Linked DNA regions of Homo sapiens. The protein of the gene in region 1 interacts with the protein of each later gene in a pairwise test. Each region holds a gene or a part of one and is shown in the gene's direction. Other genes may lie near its edges.

Region 1 (7,756 bases):
AGCCTAATTATCATTTAAAAGTATAATTATTTTCCCCAATCCATTAATCTTATTTATCTTGGTAGCAATTATATCTTACATAGAGAAAATAGTGTAGTTTAATTTATTATAGGATCTTGCTCAAACAGTGAGAACACTTACGGTAAATTTATATATTTTGGTTCCTGTTTCTCTTTATGTTGTATTCCCATGCTCTTTACTTCTCCTTTGACTTGCTCCCATTGAATTAACTTTGCCACTAACCTGTAGGAGATCTTATTTAGGGGAAAAAAATAACAGCAAAGGCTGGATGCCATGGCTCACATCTGTAATCCCAACACCTCAGGAGTACAAGGCAGGAAGATTGCTTGAGCCCAGGAGTTTGAGACCAGCCTGGTAAACATAATGAGACCCCCATCTCTACAAAAAATTTAAAAAAATTAGCCAGGTGTGGTGGCATGCCCCTGTAGTTCCACCTACTCGAGAGCTAAGGTGGGAGGATCATTTGAGCCCAGGAAGTCAAAGCTGCAGTCAGCCATGATTGCACCACTGCACTCCAGCCTGGACAACAAAGTGAGAACCTGTCTCAAAATTAATAGGCCAGGCGCAATGGCTCATGCCTGTAATCCCAGCACTTTGAGAGGCCAAGACAGGCAGATCACCTGAGGTCAGGAGTTCAAGACCAGCCTGGCCAACATGGTGAAACCCTCATCTCTACTAAAAATACAGAAAATTAGCCAGGCATGGTGGTGCACACCTGTAATCTCAGCTATTCGGGAAGCTGAGGCACGAGAATTGCATGAACCCAGGAGGTAGAAGTTGCAGTGAGCTGAGATTGTGCCACCGCACCAGCCTGAGCAACAGAATGAGACTCCATCTCAAAACAAAAGTAAATAACAACAACAATAAAATAATAATAAAAAATAAGAGCAAAGTCTTGTTTTCAGGAGAAATTCCTTACAGAGAAGATAGCTAATTTGTTCCAAAATTTTCTTGGTTTTATACACTTATAAATGAGACAAGAGGACTTTCATTCATCTTTTCAGGGCAGTTTGAAGTCCCTTAAAATATTTATGCCTTGAGGATTTCAGAAATTAAAGTGTCCAGACTATTCCTAGAGCATAATATGTGTGATCTCAGAACCTAGGATTTTATTCTGCATTCCATGAGAATTAACCGGTATAGAAGAGGAATCGAGGTAAACTGTGAACTGTGCTTATAATTTCTGATTTGTCAGCTAAGCTAAATGTTATTTCTTTTTTTTCATTGACTTTGTACAAGTTGATAAGTTAAATGTTACATATGTAAGTTCTTATTTCTTAGATGATCTTTTAAAATTCCATTGCTTTTCTTTAATTTTAGAAAGAGCGAAAAGGAAAGGATGAGAGAATACCAACGAGAACTAGAAGAAAGAGAAGAAAAATTAAAAAAGAGGCCACTGCTATTTGAAAGAGTTGCTCAGGTTGTGTTTATTGGAATTTAAGAGCTATCGTCAGTTTTTTTTTTTTTTTTTACAGCTTTAGCTCCTAAATTTACAGTCCATTTTTCTTATGTGTTATATAACTGTTGAGATACATTATTGTTGTTTGTGTTGGCTTCATCATATCAGCCAATGAGTAATTTTGCTTAAATCCGAGCATTTAGCCAGGTGTGGTGGTGTGCACCTGTAGTCCCAGCTACTTGGGAGGCTGAGGTGGGCAGATTGCTTGAGCCCAAGAGTTTTGGTCCAACCTGTGCAACGTAGCAAGACCTCATCTCAAAAAAATAATCTGAACATTGAATCTTTTTGATGAAGCACATAAGTTTGATAAATAACATGCCAATCCAGTAGTTCGTAAAATAATTTTGCAAGCTGTTTTCTAATGGCTGGTCTTTTTTCAGTACAAACTTGGTTAGATATTAAGATGAGGCTTCATGATATCACTTGGAGGTCTTTGAAGAATTAAAAAAATGAAACAAAATGGCTAATTGAATCAGAGTTATTTCTGCTAGTTTTTTTTTTTAAGTGAGTCTGTAATTCAATCTTCTCTGCAATTACTAAAAGAACTTCCTTTCTATACGAAAAACAAACTAGTCTTACGGACAGTGGACCCTGATTTTACTAAGTTTATGCCCGGTTTTACAACCTTTCCCTTAAGGGAAATTTGTCAATTTTAGGTCATCTTCTCCTTTGTCCCATAGGGGAGGCATCTGTATGGGTGACATGGCTTAACAATTGACAAAATCACTGGAGGTTACAGGTTCTAAATTGTGAATTTGAAGCTGTTATAATTGGACAATAGACAGTTGGAGAATTTACCTGTAACAGATGAGCATAGTTACAGAACTGTACTTGCCAGTGACTCATTGAGGACAGTGGACATGTATTGTGGGTGAATCTGCACATTACAGTCTCTCAAAGTTACGTAATCTTTTTGCTCACTGATCTAGATATAATTTTATATAATGCCTTTCATTTTAAGTGATGGATTTTTTTAACATCTTTATTTCAACTTTAGGGGGAAAAATCATTTTAAGCTGTTCTACATTATAATCATAAAGTGATTGGCTTTTGGCTCAAAGACATTATCTCCAGCTCTGAACTGCAAGTTTTTTGTTTTTGCTCTTTACACTGCTTCTGGGTTTTTCTTATTTATTTATTTATTTATTTTTTCAACTTTTATTTTAAATTCAAGGAGTATATGCGCAGGTTTGTTACAAGGGTATGCCAGGCGCCGTGGCTCACACCTGTAATCCCAGCCAGCATTTTGGGAGGCCGAAGCAGGTGGATCACCTAAGGTCAGTGGTTCGAGACCAGCCTGGCCAACATGGTGAAACCTTGTCTCTACTAAAAATACAAAAATTAGCCGGGCATGGTTTTGCGTGCCTGTAGTCCCAACTACTTGGGAGGCTGAGGCAGGAGAATTGCTTGAACTTGGGAGGCGGAGGTTGTAGTGAGCTGAGATTGCGTCATTGCACTCCAGCCTGAGCAACAAGACCAAAATTCTATCTCAAAAAAAAAAAAAAGGGTATATTGTGTGAGCTGGGGTTTGGGGTATGATTGAACTCATCACCCAGGTAATGAGCATAGTACCCAATAGGTAGGTTTTCAACCCTTGCCCTCCTCCCTCCACTCTCCCTCTTATATTCTCCAGTGTCTGTTGTTCTCATCTTTATTTCCATGTGTACCCAGTGTTTAGTTCCCACTTGTAAGTGAGAACATATGATGTTTGGTTTTCCGTTTCTGCTTTAGTTTGCTTAGGATAATGGCTTCCAGCTGTATCCATATTGTTGCAAAGGACATGATTTCATTCTTTTTTATGGCTGTGTAGTATTCCATGGTGTATGTGTAACATATTTTCTGTATCCAATCCACTGCTGATGGGCTGGGTTGTTACCATGTCTTTGCTGTTGTGAATAGCATCAGCACTTGTTATTGTCTGTCTGATTTTTTTAGAAAAATATTTTTAGAGACAGGGTTTCACTCTGTTGCCCAGGCCAGTGCAGTAGTACAATCATAGCTCACTGGAACCTTGAACTCCTGGGCTCAGATGATCCCCAGTATGAGCATCCCAAGTAGCTGAGACAAAGGCCCACACCATCATGCCCAGCTAATTTTATTTTTTGTAGAGACTGGGTCTCGCTGTATGGCCCAGGCTGGTCGTGAACTCCTGGCCTCAAGTGATCCTCCCACCTCCACCTCCCAAGTTGATGGGATTACAGGCATGAGCCACTGCACCTAGCTTTTGTCTGTCTTTTTGTTATAGTCTTCCTAGTGGGTACAAAGTGGTATTTTATTATTCAGTAACATTCTTTCAACTGTTCTTTTATCTTTTTCATTACAGACTCTATCTACTAGCTTATTGATATGGTAGGTGAGGATTTAGCTGTTTTAACACGTCCTCTCGGAAGCACACTTACCTACCCTTTCAACGTCTTTCCATCTTTCTGTTTCCCAGTCAGCTCTATCACAGTTAGATCGGAATTCAGTGTTATAACTTAGTAAACAATGTTAGCAGCTGAGCCCTATATTATTATCATCACATTTCCTTTTTTTTTTTTTTTTTGAGACAGAGTCTCACTCTGTCACCCAGGCTGGAGTACAGTGTCACAATCTCAGCTCACTGCAACCTCTGCCTCCTGGGTTCAAGCCATTCTCCTGCCTCAGCCTCCTGAGTAGCTGGGATTACAGGTGCGCGCCACCGTGCCTAGCTAATTTTTTTGTATTTTTTAGTAGAGACGAGGTTTCACCATGTTGGTCAGGCTGGTCTCGAACTCCTGACCTGATGATCCGTCTGCATTGGCCTCCCAAAGTGCTGGGATTACAGGCGTGAACCACCATGCCTGGCCCATCACATTTCCTTTAAAAAAATTTTTTCTTGTGTTAATAATTACTAATTTTGTTTGGTCCTCCCCCCACCTTCCCTCATTCCCCACCAATGTATGTATCATTATTATTCTTAGGCTTTTCTGTTAGCTCTCAAAAATCCCCCTCAAACAGTTAAACACATTCGTAATTCATCAGTTCCTTTCCTCCCCTGGAGCCCACAAGTGTCCTGCTCCACTTTGGAATGGTTTCTCTCTAGGCCAGCAGTCCTCAACCTTTTTGGCGCTAGAGACTGGTTTTATGGAAGACCATTTTTCCACAGACCAGGGTTGCGTGGGGTGGGGTGGATGGATCGGGAAATGGATCATTTCAGGATGAAACTGTTCCACCTCACATCATCAGGCGTTAGATTCTCATAAGGAGCATGCAACCTAGATCCCTGGCATGAGCACTTCACGATAGGGGTCACCCTCCTATGAAAATCTAACGCTGTAGGAGGCAGGGCTCAGGCCATAATGCTCGCCCTCCCACTGCTCACTTCCTGCTGTGCAGCCTGGTTCCTAACAGGCCACAGACCCGTACCTAGTTCGTGGTAGGGACCCCTGCTCTAGGCCTCTGGCATAAACGACATCTTAGGACTTTTTCACTGTTATACTGGGGAGTAGTTAGATATTAACCTGGATTTATCTACATTTCTTGTATTTCTTTTAAAATCACTGTTATTTTATTCTAGTTCTGGAAGATTTCCTCAAATTTATCTTCCAAATCTGCATTTTTTGCTTACCTAATGAAAAATGACATAATTTCCAGAATGCTTCCCATTTATTAAATATTCCTTTGGTATTTTTCATGGGTGCAGTACGTTTTTTTTTGTTGTTGTTGGTTTTTTGTTGTTGTTGTTGTTGGTTTTTTTTTGTGTGTGTGTGACAGGGTCTTACTCTGTCCCAGGCTGGAGTGCAGTGGCATGATCTCGGCTCACTGCAACTTTAACCCCTTGGGCTCAGGCAATCTTCCCACCTCAGCCTCCCAAGTAGTTAGGACTACAGGCACAAGCTACCATGCCAGGCTAATTTTTGTATTTTTTGTAAAGACAGGGGTGTTACTGTGTTGTCCATGCTGGTCTTAAGCTCCTGGGCTCAAGAAATCCTCCTTTCTCGGCCTTCCAAAGTGTCGGGATTCCAAGTGTGAGCCACCACACCCAGCCTGTCTTTTATATCTCTGAGCATACTGGTGATATTGTCTCTGTTTCCTTCAAGTTCCTTTTTCTCTTTTTTAGCCTCTTGTCTATCATATTAGAAGCTTTCCTCAGATTATCTTTGGTTGTCTGTTTGCATTTAAGAGGGAGACTGCACAAAGCTATTTGGAAGCTGGTTTATAATGTTTTTTGAGAGGTTGCTGAAAGACAAGCACTCCACTAAGCACTTTATATGCATTGTCTTAACTGACCTTTACACTGCTCCTGTGAGGTTCTTATTTCACAGATGAGGGACATCTTGAGGCTTAGATGATACAACCAGAAGAAGGGGAACCAGGATTCAAACCCAGATCTGACTGTCTTCATGTGATTCTTTTATCTATCATATTGTTTTCCTGCCCCCTTCTCAACAAATGCTTTTTGAATATCAGAAAATCCCTTGAGACCCTTAAAGTCAGATAGAAACAAGACAGACAAATGTAGTCATTCAAGACACACAATTGCAGCAATTACAGATGTGTGTTGAGACAAAATTGTGAATATGATTGTTTTGGAGGTTGGGGGAATGGTCAGATTGATATGTTATTTTTTTCTGTTAACCTCAATTCCAGGGAGCAGGTACATAACCTGGGAATACTAATATTTGTGTTAGTGACATGCGAGGCTTGTTCCAACAGGTCTAGAAAAAAAAAAGGAAAGTAAATAAATGCTAAATTAAAGGAATCATTATGGGTGATACTATAATACAAGAAAGAAAGTATGAAGTATTATTTGGGAAGACCAATATTGAACACATATGCAGCAATGATTTATTATAGTGCTGTTTGTCTAAGAAATATCTTTTTTTTTTTTTTTTTTTGAGAAGGCGTCTCACTCTGTCACCCAGGCTGGAGTGCAGTGGCTCGATCTCAGCTCACTGGAACCTCCGCCTCCCGGGTTCAAGTGATTCTCCTGCCTTAGCCTCCTGAGTATCTGTGATTACAGGCGCGTGCCACCATGCCTGGCTAATTTTTTTTGTATTTTTAGTCAAGACGAAGTTTCATCATGTTGGTCAGGCTGGTCTCGAACTCCTGACCTTGTGATCTGCCCACCTCAGCCTCTCAAAGTTCCGGGATTACAGATGTGAACCACCACATCCAGCCAGAAATATCTTTATATTAGAAAAATTAGGCCAGTGACTCACCCTGTAATCCCAACACTTTGGGAAACTGAGGGGGGGAGGATCATTTGAGGCCAAGAGTTTGAGACCAGTGTCTACTGTTCTCATTTTTTTTTTTTTTTTTTTTTGAGACAGGGTCTTACTCTGTCACCCAGGCTGGAGTGCAGTGGCGTGATCTCGGCTCACTGCAACCTCTGCCTCCTGGGTTCAAGTGATTCTCCTGCCTCAGTCTCCTGAGTAGCTGGGATTACAGGTGCACACCACCATGCCCGGCTAATTTTTTTTGTATTTTTAGTAGAGACGGGATTTCACCATGTTGGCCGGGCTGGTCCTGAACTCCTGACCTCAAGTGATCCACCTGCCTCGGCCTCCCAAAGTACTGGGATTACAGGAGTGAGCCACCGTGCCTGGCCTACTGTTCTCATCTTCATATCTGTGTGTACCCAGTTCCTCCCCATTCAGCTGGTCATTGAGAGACCTGTCAAATTTTCTTCCTAAATAATTTTTGGATCTGCCCTTCACCATCCTTGGTGGTGAAATGCCAGGTGGAACCTTTATTTCCTATCTGAATCATAATAGTTTGATTGATTTTTCTGCCTTGCTCTTTGCAGAACCATTCATTATACCTTCGCCTTACCATTTTCATTCCCCTACTAAAATGTTAACCCTGGGTAGACAATTAATAAGCCTTTATAACAGGGACAATCATCCATTCTCACCAATTCCATTTATTCTCATTTTCAATGAATGATATCAAGGGGTCTTCTCATTAACTTCTCAAAAAGTATAAACAGAGTTACCATGGCAGTGAATCGCCATTGCTTTTTTTTTTTAGTACATTTTTTGCTGCAGTCTATTTTGCTGGAACTATTGCTGCTAATTAACAGCTGGTTTTTAATAAATTTGCTTGCAGCTATTTGCTTTGCCCATTTATAGGAGTTAATTGTGGTCTCGCTGCTGCTGAGTGATTCCCTAACACAATATGCCTGTGATTCTTTACAGAATAAACTATGTTGTCCTGTTTCTTGGAAATCACAGGATTAATTAACTGAGAAGATGTTAAATTGAATTTTAAACCAAAGTCAGATGAAGGCTTACTGGCACAAATTTTGACTAA
Region 2 (7,378 bases), on another chromosome or scaffold:
TATCTTGTTTTGCTAAATCAGCTATATGAATCCCAGGGGCTTCTCTGAAGAAGGAGGAGGTTTCTGAACATACTCTTTTTATGTACACTGGGTCTTTACAGTTTCTTTTGTGCTTGATGTTCATAGCGTAGAACATTTTAGAAGATTGTTTAGATCTTCAGTGCTTCAGAAGAAAACCAATAATTTAAATAAACATACCTAAGAAGGACACTAAGTTTTTGTGTTCCTGTAGATACCAAAGGACTGAGCAAGATAAAATAACACACATGGCATTTCAAGAACATCAAATAAAGTTCTAAATAAAAATCTTTATAGAAATAAAATTCTAAATAGAGTTTTTATAGAATTCATAGACTCATCATTATTATTATTGTTTATGGTTATTGATTTAATGAGAAATCACAAATATATCCCTGATTTAATGAAAAATCGCAAATTTTTCCAGGTAATTGACATTGAAGAAAAATCAACTATACTGAGATATAGTTAACATAGAGTAAAATTATCCAATTTTAAGGGCACAATTTGATGAGTTCTGATGTATATATACACTTAGGTAAACCTCTCCATAATCAAAATATAGAAGATTTTTATCACTCCAAAAAGTTCCTACATGCCCCTTTGAAATCAATCTCTTCCTTCTACTCTCAGCCTCTAACATTCACTGACATGTTTTATTTCACTTTAAATGTGTCTTTTCTAAATTTTTGTCTAAGTGATAGCATACATTATGTAGTGTTTTGTGTCTTCTGGTTTTTTTCACTTAGCATAATTTTTTTTTTTTTTGAGATGGAGTCTCGCTCTGTTGCCCAGGCTGGAGTGCAGTGGTGCCATCTCTGCTCACTGCAAGCTCTGCCTCCAGGGTTCATGCCATTCTCCTGCCTCAGCCTCCCGAGTAGCTGGGACTACAGGCGCCTGCCACCATGCCCGGCTAATTTTTTTATATTTTCAGTAGAGACGGGGTTTCACCCTGTTAGCCAGGATGGTCTCGATCTCCTGACCTCGTGATCTGCCCGCCTCAGCCTCCCAAAGTGCTGGGATTACAGGTATGAGCCACTGCGCCAGGCCGCATAATGCTTTTTGAGCACTTATGTTGTTCCATGTATCAATAATCATGATTATTTATTCAGTTTACTTATTCATTTCCCAGTTGATGGACATGGGGTAGTCCATGGTAGTTTTATCCATCCTGCAATTAGTGAAAATCCCAGTTTCTCTATATCCTTTCCAAAACTTGATATTGTCAATCTTTTTAATTTAAACCATTTTATTGAATGTATAGTAGTATCTTATTGTGGTTTTAATTTGTATATCTCTTGTTTTGGTGGGAGGGTGGGACAGAGTCTCACTCTGATGTCCAGGCTAGAGTACAGTGGTGCATCTCAACTCACTGCAACCTCTGCCTCCGAAGCTCAAGTGATTCTTGCGCCTCAGACTCCCCAGTAGCTGGAATTACAGGCGCGCACTGCCATGCCTAGCTAATTTTTGTATTTTTAGTAGAGATGAGGTTTTGCCATGTTGGCCAGGCTGATCTTGAACTCCTGGCCTTAAGTGATCCATCCACCTCAGCCTCCTAAAGTGTTGAAATTACAGGCATGAGCCGTGGTGCCCGGCTGCATATCCCTAATGAGCAATCCTGTTGAGCGTCCTTTCAGGTGCTTCCTTGCCATTCATATATTTTTTTGGTTGTGTTCAAACTTTTGTCTATATTTTTGTTAAATTGTTGTATTATTAAGTTGTAAAGGATACAAATCCTTTATCAGATATATGTTTCTTAAATATTTTTTCTCACTCCATGGCTTGCCTTTTCAATTTATTTTTATTTATTTATTTTTTTGAGATGGAGTCTCACTCTGTCACCCAGGCTGGAGTGTGGTGCAATCTCGGCTCACTGCAAGCTCCGCCTCCCAGGTTCACGCCATTCTCCTGCCTCAGCCTCCCAAATAGCTGGGACTACAGGTGCCCGCCACCACGCCCGGCTAATTTTTTTGCATTTTTAGTAGAGATGGGGTTTCACCATGTTAGCCAGGATGGTCTCGATCACCTGACCTCGTGATCTGCCCGCCTCGGCCTCCCAAAGTACTGGGATTACAGGCGTGAGCCACCGCACCTGGCCATCTCTGGCTAATTTTAGGACTTGCTTTTTGTCACTTGCTTCCATCAATTTGATTATACGTGGTCTTGGTGTGATTTTCTTTGTATTTATTCTGCTTGTGCGTCATTGAGCTGCTTGGATCTAAGGGTTTATAATTTTCATCAAATTTTGAATAATATCAGCTGGTATTTCTTCAAATACTTTTTTACCAACCCCTTTTCTCCTCTCCTTCTTGGAGTCTAATTTTACATATTTTAGACAACTTGATATTGTCAAGTTGTCTCATGTCATCGATATTCAGTACTTTTTTAGCCTTTTTTCACCTCACACTTTATTTTAAATGGTTTCTATTGTTATTCAAGTTCTCATCTTTTCTTCTGCATGGTCTAACCTTCTGTTAATATTGTTCAAGATATTTTCATTTTATATACATTTCATTTCTAGAAGTTTCATTTGGGTCTTTTTATATCTTTCTTATCTCTTCTCACCATGTTCATGCCTTCCTCTACATTCTTGAAAAAATGGAAGACATTTATCCATTTTAATATCCTTGTCTGCTAATTCTATCATCATTGTCATTTCTGGGCCTGATTTTATTGTTTGATTGTTCTCCTGAGAGTCATATTTTCCTGCTGCTTTGTATGGCTAGTAATCTTTTTCTTTTTAATGGGCTTTATTTTTTAGGACACTTTTAGATTTTTTAATTTTACAGAAAAACTGAGAAGATAGTATAGAGTTTTTTATATGCCCCATCCTCACTTTTCTCTATTATTAACATCTTAGATTTAACATTTTTAACAACTAATGAACCAAATTGATACATTATTAACTGAAATCCATAGTTCCTTTAGATTTTCTTAGTTTTTACCTAATGTCATTTTTCTGTTTTAGGTTTCCATCTAAGGTGCCACATTACACTAAGTTGTCATTTTCTTTAGGTGCCCCTTGGCTGTGACAGTTTCTCAGGCTTGCCTTATTTTTTATGACTTAGATAGTTTTGAGGAGTACTGGTCATATATTTTGTAAGGATGCTGCACTATTGCAATTTGTTTGATGTTTTCCTCATAAAATTTGGGTTATTAATTGGGAGAGGAAGACAGTAGCATTAAAGTGTCATTGTCATCACATCACATTAAGTGTTCATACCGTCAACATGATTTATGACTATTGATGTTGACTTTAATCACCTGGCTGAGGAAGTGTCTGTCAGGTTTCTCCACTGTACTCTTTTTCCCTCCTTCTATACTTGTATACTTTGGAAGGCAGTCATTGTGCACAGCCCACGCTTAAGGAGGGGATAGTTATGCTCCCTCTCCCTGAGGGTAGTGTATTAATGTAAATTATTTGAAATTTTGCTGCCCTGGAGATTTGTCTCTTCTGGTTGGTAATTTTTTACTGGATGCCAAATATGATGAATTTCATATTGTTTGTACTGATGAATTCATATTGGTGAATTTTGTATTTGCTGGATTTTGTTGTAGTTCTTTCAGTTCTATTGAATTTAACTCTGGCATGCAGTTAACATGGTATGACATCATTTTGTTCCTTCTGAGGCTTAAATAAAGCCTAGTTAGAGTGGCTCAAGAGCAGCCTTTAATCTAGGGCTAACTTAGCCCATTTTCTAAAGTAATATACCCTTCTGATTACCCTACCTGACGTTGACATATTACGACATTTTTCCATTCTGGTTGGCAAGATTGAAAATTATTCCCAGCCTTGTGTGAGCTCCAGAAATTGTTCAGTCTATTGATTTCTGGAGGTTCTTTCTCTGGCCTTGACGAGTTTCACTGCATGCATGTGCAGATTAGTACTCAGCCACAGCCTTGAGAGAATCCCTTTGTAGATGTTTGTAAGTTTCTGTGAAGTTCCCTCCTCTGTGTTACTCTGCTTAGCAAATTGTAGCTGCCTTGGTATGACAGAGTTTTTCTTCCTGTATACTTTGCTCTGTAAAGCCAAACTTCACTTCTAGCAATCTTTTAAAATGCAAACTGATTTTTAAATTTTTGGTATAATTTTACATCAAGAAAACCAAATGAGATTTATTTAATATATGACTATTTATTAATAATGTATTATTTATCCATATACTCTCCCTCTATACAGAGTGGGAAATTGTTTTTCTATGGTAACTGTGGTCAGACCTTTGTAAAATATATTCCATACTTTTTATTTCTAAGTCTTTGCTTATTTTGTAGATCCATATATTCTCCTTTTCTGCCAGCCTTATAAATTAGGCTGTTGCTTTAGAGCAGGAGCTGGCACTTTTCTGTAAAGGTTTGAAGAGTAAATATTTTAGGCCTTGCAGGTGTATGGTCTTTGTTGCTGCTACTTAACTCTGCTCTTGTAGTGAAAAAGAAGCTACAGACAACATATAAATGAATGGTCATAAATGTGCTCCAATAAAACTTTACTTACAAAGTAGGCAGTGGGTCAGATTTGACCTGTTGGTTGTAGTTTGCCTACTCTAGCTTAGGGAATTTTTCAATTTAAAATATTTGCATGAACAAATGCCCAAATAATGTGGAGTGAACCATATGGGGAAAAAGCATTCTAGGACAAGGGAAGAAATTATAAGGACCCTGAAGTAGGAATGATCTTCATTATGTTCAAGGAACTGCCAAAAGACAAGGGTGGATGAATCAAAGTAAATGAGGGAAAGTGTGGTAGGAGATGAAGTAGAGAGGTAGGTAAATCATGTGGCTCTTTTTTCCTCTATAAGGACTCTGGATTTTATCTCAGATGTGATGGTAAACATAAGAGTATGCTGAGCAGGGAAATGGCTTGATCTCATTCATGATATGTGTAGAATAGGGTGCAGATGGGCAAGAGAGGAAACAGAAGAGTAAAAAGCTATTGCAGTAGTTCCAGGCCAGTGATATTTCTGGAAGTAGTCAGAAGTGTTTGGGCACAAGATATATTTTGAAGGTGGAGCTGACAGAACTTTTCGTTATATGAACGTGGCATGAGAAGGAAAGAGAGGACAAAAAGCTGACTCATGGGAATCTTCAGAGCCAGTGCAGGCTGAACTAGCTAGAGATGTGTCAGAGGCTTAGCAAAGAGAGCAGAGTGGGATTCCAAAACGTTGCTAAAAAGTCTTTATGGTACCTCCAAAGAAAACCCAGTCCTCACATCAGAAAGATTAACAACCCAAAGTGAATGGGGATATGTAAGGGGATAGGGATTTAGCCTATATGGAAAAATTCAAGATTCTTAATTCTTCAAAGCCTCTTGTTGGAAAGAGAAGTCCCTGGGATAATGGAAAAGACTCAGGCTTTTCTGAGAAGATAGAGTTAGACTAGAGTTCATGACTAGCCTGGCCAACATGGTGAAATCCTGTCTCTACTAAAATTACAAAAAATATCAGCTGAGCGTGGTGGTGCATGCCTGTAATCCTAGCTACTCAGGAGGCTGAAGCAGGAGAATTGCTTGAACCCAGGAGGCGGAGGTTGCAGTGAGCCGAGGTTGTGCCACTGCACTCCAGCCTGGGGGACAGAGCAAGAATCTATCTCAAAAAAAACAAAACAAAACAAACAAACAAACAAAAAAAAAACAGAGAGAGAGAAACTAGATTGATTCTGCTTCCAAGGATAAATAAATCCAATAACAACAAATGCATGCATACATGTATCTGTGTCCATGGTGTGCACACACATAGCTATTAGGTCTCCTTTATCAAATTTCATGTCAAGGTCCAATGATCTCACATCTGGAATTTGTGTCATCCTCTTGCTGGTCAGCTTTCAACCTCTCTTCATTTAGTTTAGATATTCTTTTTTATACTGCTGCCCTTTGAATTGTCTAAACCAATGCTTGTAAAATTATCTGTGATGAAGGGCCAATCAAAAAAATCTCAATCTGTCATGGACTGATACTTTTGTAGAATACAATATAAATTACTTGAAAAAGTAAAATTAAAAAAAGCAAAGATTACAAAGTACAAGCCCAATTTTGTAATTATTAGATTCAACTGACATAAAATTACTGTCAATTTGCTATGAAAGTTTTTAAAAGTTTACTGTTAATTTCTATACTATCTTTGTCCGAGACTGTTAACCACATGGTATGTGGACCACATTATGAGTAGCAATGACATAAACCACTCTAGATCTCAAAAATCTCATTATCTGTTAAACCAAAATAAACCTCTCACTATTGTCCTCTAAACTCTGTACCAGTTAGTTCAGTCTTGCCTGTGTCTAACAGGCAAGCTCTTGTGTTCTCTTCCACACAGGGGACTGTTTTTAATCCATTTCTTTCTTTCCGTTTATTCAAAACATCCTAAATACATCTCATGTATATACAACTGAATACTTACCTTCCTCAGAAAGCTTTCCTAGAACATCCTTACCTAATTTTTACCCCTTTGGCATTTGTATTTTCTTATATTTATTAGTATAGGTTTATATTATTTGTATTGTTTCCTTTAGTAGAGCATAAATTACTTCTGAGTAAACCCTGATTTTTACCCTAAATATAAAAATGTCTAGAATATAGTAACATGGATACCCAAACAATAAAAAGCATGTAAGTGGCCAGGTGCGGTGGCTCATGCCTGTAATCTCAGCACTTTGAGAGGCCTAGGCAGGTGGGTTGCTTGGGGCCAGGAGTTCAAGGCCAGTCTGGCCAACATGGCGAAACCCTGTCTCTACTAAAAAATTACAAAGATTAGCCAGGTGTGGTGGCACACACCTGTAATCCCAGCTATTTGGGGGGCTGAGGCACGAGAATTGCTTGAACCCAGGAAGCGGAGGTTGCAGTGAGCCGAGATCGCACCACTGCACTCCAGCCCTGGGCAACCTTGTCTGCCTCAAAAAAAAAAAAAAAAAAAAAAAAAAAAAAAGCATATAAGTAATTGCTTGCCTGTCTAAGAGTCTATGTGTATGGGGAGATAAAGTACTATTGAATATGAAATACTATCTTTTACTGTGGGAATTTGTGTTTACCCCCCTTTCTCCCATGCTCTGCTTTCTTTTATTTTCTTACTAGGCCTGTCTCCACTAACTCTGGACCCTAAAACAGCTCACCCAAATCTGGTGCTCTCCAAAAGCCAAACCAGCGTCTGGCATGGTGACATTAAGAAGATAATGCCTGATGATCCTGAGAGGTTTGACTCAAGTGTGGCTGTACTGGGCTCAAGAGGCTTCACCTCTGGAAAGTGGTACTGGGAAGTAGAAGTAGCAAAGAAGACAAAATGGACAGTTGGAGTTGTCAGAGAATCCATCATTCGGAAGGGCAGCTGTCCTCTAACTCCTGAGCAAGGATTCTGGCTTTTAAGACTAAGGA

What was found.
Region 2: the proteins of FAM161A (region 1) and TRIM69 interact in binary tests that used the Homo sapiens proteins (3 or more experiments, as listed by UniProt).

Annotation. Positions count from the first base shown.
Region 1 is NC_000002.12:61,829,695-61,837,450, reverse strand, and holds part of FAM161A (protein FAM161A), read left to right. Parts: intron 1-1,341; coding exon 1,342-1,441; intron 1,442-7,756. UniProt on the Homo sapiens protein: Involved in ciliogenesis.
Region 2 is NC_000015.10:44,760,150-44,767,527, forward strand, and holds part of TRIM69 (E3 ubiquitin-protein ligase TRIM69), read left to right. Parts: intron 1-7,081; coding exon 7,082-7,378.